Homo sapiens: one gene and its partner. The protein of the gene in region 2 purifies or fractionates together with the protein of the main gene of each other region. This does not show direct contact. Each region holds a gene or a part of one and is shown on either strand. Other genes may lie near its edges. The genes, in order: KIAA0319L and CNNM4.

Evidence for each region.
Region 1: the proteins of CNNM4 (region 2) and KIAA0319L fractionate together in Homo sapiens (co-fractionation; one large-scale study listed by BioGRID). This does not show direct contact.

Annotation. Positions count from the first base shown.
Region 1 is NC_000001.11:35,435,289-35,439,098, forward strand, and holds part of KIAA0319L (dyslexia-associated protein KIAA0319-like protein), read right to left. Parts: intron 310-3,810; coding exon of another isoform or gene 194-309; exon of another isoform or gene 17-193; intron 1-16.
Region 2 is NC_000002.12:96,791,804-96,795,613, reverse strand, and holds part of CNNM4 (metal transporter CNNM4 precursor), read right to left. Parts: intron 1-3,810. UniProt on the Homo sapiens protein: Probable metal transporter. The interaction with the metal ion chaperone COX11 suggests that it may play a role in sensory neuron functions. May play a role in biomineralization and retinal function.

The DNA of each region.
Region 1 (3,810 bases), on a different chromosome or scaffold from region 2:
ACGGATGAGAGCACACCTGGGGTCTCCTGCTGGTTCTTCATCTCCAGTATCCATGAGCTTTGGTTCAGGCCACTCAGTGACATTCTCTTTTCTTTACCTTTCAAATTTGGAATATTTTATCACCTCCCTCTATGGGTGGAATGACATGGTAGGCAGGAAAGCACAAAGAACTCAGGCTCTGGAGAATGAGCTTTTAGCTGCACCCTAGGTCAGCAAGGCCGCTGAGTGCTGGCACAGCAGGAGTGTGCAGTTTCAGTCCATGTAGACATTTGCTCTGTGGGCTCTTGTCTGCTGTGGCTTCACTGGATGCTAGGGTGGCAGAGTAGGTGCACACTTGGACAGGTCTCTCCTGCTGGGAGAGCCTGACTGAAATGGGGACTCTCAGAAGCAGTCCCAAGCAGCCAAATCACAGAACACACAAAGCAAGAACCGTATGAAGCACCTGGGGTCGAAGAAGACACCTGCGATTCTGCAAGCCATGGCAGTCCCTTCACTACTTATCCCTATAGATGCCGAGCGGCCACAGACATGAAATGTGGTCTGATAAGAAGAGTTCCAACAGCAAAGATGGCTGCCCTCTGGCTGGTGCAAAAACTCCAGAGAAAACAAACAGCAGGCTGAGATAGCAGGACTAGAGTGGGAGCTGCCAACAGGTGGCACCCCCTCAGCAGTGTTCTGGGTCCTGGGAATGCCCACGCCCAGGAGCTAACCTCCCTCCTTTCTAAAAAAGGTAACCAGTCAGGTGAGGGGTGGACATCTTAGGGAGAGGGGAGAGCCCTCTCCAGCACCACAATCTCATCATCCAATAATCATTCTCCCTTCTCCGGGGAGAAGGATCCAGATCTCCCTCACATACTGAAAGTGCCTTGAGAGGATTCCCAGCCATTCAGCCCTTCCTGGCCACACCTGACTTAAGGGTGGCAGTGCCCCGAGCTCTCCAGGCTGAGCGCATCCAGACCCTGATGCGCCTGCCATTCAGGACCACATGCGCCCAAGGACCTTGTCCATGTACAGCTGTGCCTGTGCCACATGCTCTGGGGCTTGGGCAGGGAGCTTCCTCACCCGCGTTGGTGTCAGGGTTACAGTTCTGGGTCTTGACTGAACCTCTCCTACTGAGTCTTCGGGCAGCGGAGCAGCAGGGCCACAGAAGAACACTGACCGCCAGGACATCTCCAGTGTGGTGGGGACAGTGGAAAGGGCCCTGGCAAGGGCCCAGGTCCTCCAAAGGCCCTGCCTCACCCCTTGAAATACCCACCTGTTCACAGCTGCCTCCTTCCCAAAGCCCCTCTGGCTATAGCAGTGAGGACAGGAGCCTAGGTTCAACCTAATATACTTCAATAGAAAGTTTTAGAAAAAAAATCAATAGAAAACAAAAACAACAACAAAAAACAACAGCAACAAGAGAAAACAAAGCCATAGCTGCTGAATGTAAAGGGGGCCTCCTGAGGGGGGCAGCCCTACACTTACCAGGTGGCACTGCTCTCCTTCCTCAGTTACTGTTCATCCTCAGCCTAAACTGGCTCCTGGCAAACTGTCCGTCCAGACTCCCGCGCACACACATCCTCTTTCCCCCCAACGGACCCACTCAGTTTACCCTTCTTCCAGCTAAACTTCTTCAGTTCCATACCTGACACCATATGGTCTTGAATCTCATTCTCCTCGTCCTCCTAGTGACTCTACTCTAGGCTGGACCTGCTAACCCACTGAGCCCAGAACAAGAACCAGTGCTTCCGGCCTGCTCAGACCCACACCGAACCTGAGCGGGCTCTCCCAGCTCCCTTCGGTAGACACTGCCCACAAGAGACCAGCCCTGCTGCCCTCACCTGGTCGCACGTTGTTGGTTTTGGTCACCTAGATGCCACTGGAACACCCCATGGCTCTCCCCTCTCCCTAAGATGTCCGATGTGCTGAGCTCAGGCTCCCATCCAATCTCACCTCTGCAGCGCGGCACTTCTCCGGGCCATCACCGCCCGTTTCTCCCCTCCTGCCTCAGAAGAGGCATCTGAACTCCATGCTCCCTTTCTCTCCTCTCTTCCCTTCTCCCTCCTTCCTCCTCAGTCAGGAAGCACCTCTCCAACGCACCACTCCTCTACCTGCATTCGACATTGCCACCCACAGATCTGTTCATGAGCCCTTCTCTGAGGAAGAGGAGGCCCTTGCCCTCTGCCTGCCATCCTGCTTCTCTAGCTTTCACTGCTCAGCTTCTAAAAGGATTTTTAAATATTCAGGGCCTTCATCTCCTCACTGCGCTTTCTAAATCACCTGCGCTTTCACTTCCACTGTCACTCCCCACTCTACTGCAGCTCTCTGATGGGCCAGGAGCTTCTCTGGTGCTATCAATTCTGATTCTTTGGCCTTTGCAGCAGCAAACACCGACGGCTGTCCCCTAATGAATCCCCTCCTCCCTCCTGGATGGTCATTCTTGGGGTCCTCAACCCTAGGCCTCTTCTTTTGTCCTTCAACATTCCCCCATAAGGGATGTGACCCTTTGTGGTGCTGATCCTCACCAGCAGATGGGAGATTCCTATTTCTACAGTTCCATGTCTGACTCTTCTGCTGAGTTCCATTTAATTCATCTTCTCTTACCCAGTCACTGCATCAGAGGTTCTGATTCTGTCAACAGCACTATCATTCTCCATCTCTCGGTTGGAAGTCAGCCCTGACCTTGCCAGACCTAGCTATAACCCACTGACACCACGCTGTGTGAATCACTGTCAGCTCCTCCTTGGACCAAAAATCTCCTTGCTGGTCTCCACACTTGTAGCCACTCCCCTTCAATTATTATATGTTGTCACCAGACTGATTTTCCTAAACCAGCTTATCCAAGACTTTGCTTCCCAGCATCACCAGGATAAATGTTTAACTCTGCAGGCTGATAGTCAAACTTTCACAATTTGGGCCTTGTCAATCTTTCATTCTCATTCCCTCAACTCCATTCATAACTGTCTTGCACCAAACACTTGATCTCCACCATTTCTTCTCCAGTCTCTCCCATCTCAGGGATACTACCACCACCCAACCCACAGAGGCTCAGTGCTGAAGCTGGGAGCCATCCTTCCTTTCTCCCTTCTCCCACACGCCTTGGCCAGCAGACCACTAACCTCATCAAGTCTTCCTCAAAAATGTATCTAGAATCTATCTGCCTCTCAACCCCAAGGACATTCTATCTAACTTCCTTTCAGCTAGCCTTTCCCCTCCAACCCCTGCATCTGTCAGCCACAGTTATCTTTTTTTTTTTTTTTTTTTTTTTTTTGAGACAGAGTCTGGCTTTATTGCCCAGGTTGGAGTGATCTCAGTTCACTGAAACCTTCACACCCCCAGGTTCTAGCAATTCTCCTGCCTTGGCCTCTCGAGTAGCTGGGATTACAGGCACCCACCACCACGCCCAGCTACACAGTTGTCTTTTTAAAATATAAACCAAGACCGGGTGCCATGGCTCACACCTATAATCCCAGCACTTTAGGAGACCAAGGCAGGCAGATCACTTAAGCCCAGGAGTTCAAGAACAGCCTAGGCAACATGATGAAACCCCGTCTCTACCAAAAATACAAAACAACAACAACAACAACAAAAAAACCTGGGGATGGTGGCGCATGCCTGTGGTCCCAGCTACTTAGGAAGCTGAGGTGGAAGGATCACCTGAGCCCAGGAGGTCAAGACTGCAGTGGGCCTTGATCGCACCACTGCACTCCTGCCTGGGTGATAAGAGTGAGACTCTGTCTCAAATAATAATAAATGTAAACCAAATCCCACCATTCATCCCCTTAAAAAGCTATCAGTGGCTCCCCATTGTACTCAAGAGAAGTCCTC
Region 2 (3,810 bases):
AATCCCCCAGCCCAAGATGGGCTGTTAAGAACTTCTAAGGGCCTCTTAGGGAGAGCAGAGAGAATGTGAGGTCTCATGACTAAAGTAAAAATTCTCACAATACACCCCATGTGATGGGGGGGGGGGTACTGCATTGTGAAAGTTTTTCACACACATGCCAGGGGCTATGATATATGTATTTCCCACTACAGGTTCTGGTCAAAAAACATTTAGCGTCTTGCTAGACAAAGCCATGGCTGGACTCGATTGAAAATACCCCAGTATCTTCCTAGAGATGAGCCAACAAGTTCAAGAGATCTGTGAGGCCCTCCAGCAGGGCGGCAGCGGGCCAGGCCGGGACCCTGGGGTCCGCCCCCAGGCCTCTGTGCCTGCTGGAGGCTGTCCATACAGGAGTGCCCTCCAGAAAGACAGTGCCTGGAAGGGCCTGGGCATCTAGCTAAACCATGTCACCACATGGGGATGGGAATTAAAGCAAGGCAGCTTTGACAGGCTGAGTATCCCTTATTCCTCACTGGGGATCAGAAGTGTTTCAGATTTCAGATTTTTTTGGATTTTGGAATATTTGCAGAATACACGCCATTGGGCATCCCAAATCTGAAAATCTGAACTACAAAATGCTCCAATGAGCATTTCTTTTGAGCATCATGTTGGTACTCAAAAAGTTTTGGATTTTGGAGCATTTGGGATTTTGGATTTTTGGATTCGGGATGCCCAACCTGTACCCCCTTCCAGATGGGCACCCTCTAAAAAGCCTGGTAATGCCCAGTTATGGTGGAGGATGGGGAAGACAAACAGGCCCTCACATGTATCTGGTTGGTGGCCAGGTAAAAGGGTACATTTCAGGGGGCCAGTTGGTCAGGATGTCACAAAATCAAGGGTTCCTAACCTTGGACTTAGAAGGTCCACTTCTAGGAACTCACCCTAGGGAGAGGCAACCTTCACAAAAGACACAAGAGAAGGGGGCTCTTGGCAACATTCTTTTTAACAGCCCCAAACCAGAAACAACCTAAAGCAATAGCAATAGGGCACAGGGACTCAAAAGGGGCCACAGCTACTCAAGGGAGAACACGGCAGAGGTGGATGAATAAAGCGCGGAACGAAATCCAAGATACGCTATTAGTGAAAGAGCAAGTCACGGAACAGAATGCATGGAGCCATCTGCCTTCACAGAAACAAAGGCGTGTGTGGGCTTGAACTGCCCTGGAAGCGTCCAGAAGTAGTAAGAGTGGTCACCTTTGGGGGTATTTGGAGTTTGGGGAGGAGGCTATTTTGCCTCTCTATATACCCTTCTATACTGTTATATTTGATGGGCATGTTTTACTTTTATAATTTAAAAACAAAACTGAGACAAAATTAAGGGGGAAAACAAAATTAAGGAGAACAAAGGGAAACTGGTGAGAGTCTCTAGGGTGGACAAGGGCCCTCTGTGCTTTTTACTGCCACAGATCGAGCCCCAGGGAATGGGGGTGTGTTCTTTGACAAGGTTCAGTGAGCAGAACCTTGTTCAGACCCCCAAAGTCAGAAAACAACCTCTCCACTACATTCACATCCCTAATTACTCCACAGGCTCAGACCAAATCCTGACCAACGAAAGGTTCCCTCACAGTGAAAGGCTGCTGGCCTCTCTCTGTTTTTATTTTTTTTGAGACAGACTCTCACTGTGTAGCCTAGGCTGGAGTGGCCCAGGCTGGAGTACAGTGGTACAATCTCAGCTCACTGCAACCTTCACCTCCCAGGTTCAAGCGATTCTCCTGCCTCAGCCTCCTGAGTAGCTGGGTGTGCGCCACCATACCCAGCTAATTTTGCATTTTTAGTAGAGACGGGGTTTCGCCAGGTTGGCCAGGCTGGTCTCGAACTCCTGACCTCAAGTGATCATTCTGCCTTGGCCTCCCAGGGTGCTGGGATTACAGATGTCAGCCACCGCGCCCGGCCTGGCAGCCTCTCTTATAGTGGAAACAGCCCTCCTGCGGATGAAATGAGCTGATTCCCTGAGCAGGGTCTTGATACCATTCTCCGCCCCCCGCCTCCTCTCTGAGACCCCTTGGCGGGATCCACTGCTGTGTGTGTGCACCCTCGGGTGGCAGCCAGCTGCATGACAGGCACCTTGTAGGTGTACAGCCCTGAGCACCATGTACACGTTCACCCCTCCTCTGCAAGCTGAGCTTTGGGCACTGCCTGATGGCTGGCCAACTGGGGTTCCGTACAGAGGTTCCAGCCTAAGGGGCCAGTCAGTCACCCTCTGCAGGGTGAGCTTTGGGCCCCTGGGCTGTTTTTCCTATTTTCTAATTTGTCTGTCCAGAGGGGACATCTTTTTGTCCTGGTAGAATTTTCCCCTCCCCGGGCCAGAGAGCCTCTGGTCAAGGTCACCAATGACCTTTCATGGTGGAGTGTTATTCTCAGATGACCTGCTGACCAACGGTGACTCCCTCCTTTCCCCTGGAAGCCCTTTCTGCCCAGGGCTTCCAGGGCACAGCCCTCCCAGTGCTCCTGACCTCAGGAGTCACTGCTTCTCCCTGACCACTTAAATGCTGGAGAGACTCAGAACTCAGTCTGTACACCTGGTCCCTTGCCTAGCAACTTTAAATACAAGTGTACAAGTGTCCCAAATAAATCTCTGCAGCCCTGTCCTCTCCCGTGCCCTCCAGATTCCTCTATCCAAGTGCTGCCTGACGTCACTAATACCTTGAAATTAACGCAGCCAAAACCCAGCTCATGCCCATCCCCCCAACACTCCTGTCTCCCTTTAGGGCAGCTCTGTCCCAGTTATCAGGCCCATGGGACGGTGAGCCTGACCTCCTCTCTTTTTTTTTTGAGATGTAGTCTTGCTCTGTCGCCAGGCTGGAGTACAGTGGCGCGATCTCAGCTCACTGCAACCTCCACCTAGCAGGTTCAAGGGATTCTCCTGCCTCAGCCTGCCAAGTAGCTGGGATTACAGGCGCCCGCCACCACACCCAGCTAATTTTTTGTATTTTTAGTAGAGATGGGGTTTCACCATGTTGGTCAGGCTGGTCACGAACTCCTGACCTCAGGTGATCCACCCTCCTCGGCCTCCCAGAGTGCTGGGATTACAGGTGTGAGCCACCGTGACCAGTCCCTCCTGTCTTTCTTTGTGCCTCTACATCCATTTAGCAGGAGGAGAAAAGTAACCAGTGAGGGGAAGGGGAGCGGGGAAGGGGAAGGGAGGCCGAAGATGGAAAGAATTATTTTAGATTTTACTAATTTAGAAGTTTCTATACTTCGGAAATTATTGCTAACTGATTTAACATCTAAAATAAGCAGATCAATTTAGGGCTTATATTTAGGATTCTCATTGTATAAATTCTAATAAAATTGTATTTTTGTGTGTGTGTGGTTTTTTTTTTTTTTTTGAGCTGGAGTCTCACTCTGTCACCCAGGCTGGAGTGCAGTGGCGTGATCTCAGCTCACTGCAATCTCCACCTCACAGGTTCCAGTGATTCTCCCACCTCAGTCTGCCTGATTACAGGCACCTGCCACCACACTCGGCTAATTTTTTGTATTTTTAGTAGAGATGGGGTTTCACCATGTTGGCCAGGCTACTCTCCTGCTCCTGATCTCAAGTGTTCAGCCCACCTCGGCCTCCCAAAGTGCTGAGATTTCAGGCGCAGAATTGCTTGAACCCAGGAGGTGGAGGTTGTAGTGAGGCAAGATCATGCCACTGCACTCCAGCCTGGGCAACAGAGCGAGTGACTCCATCTCAAAGAAAAAAAGAAATTAATACTATTGATTATGAAAAATTTGGAATTTTTTATATAGGAAAATATAAAAAGAAAACAGAAAATAGAAACCATC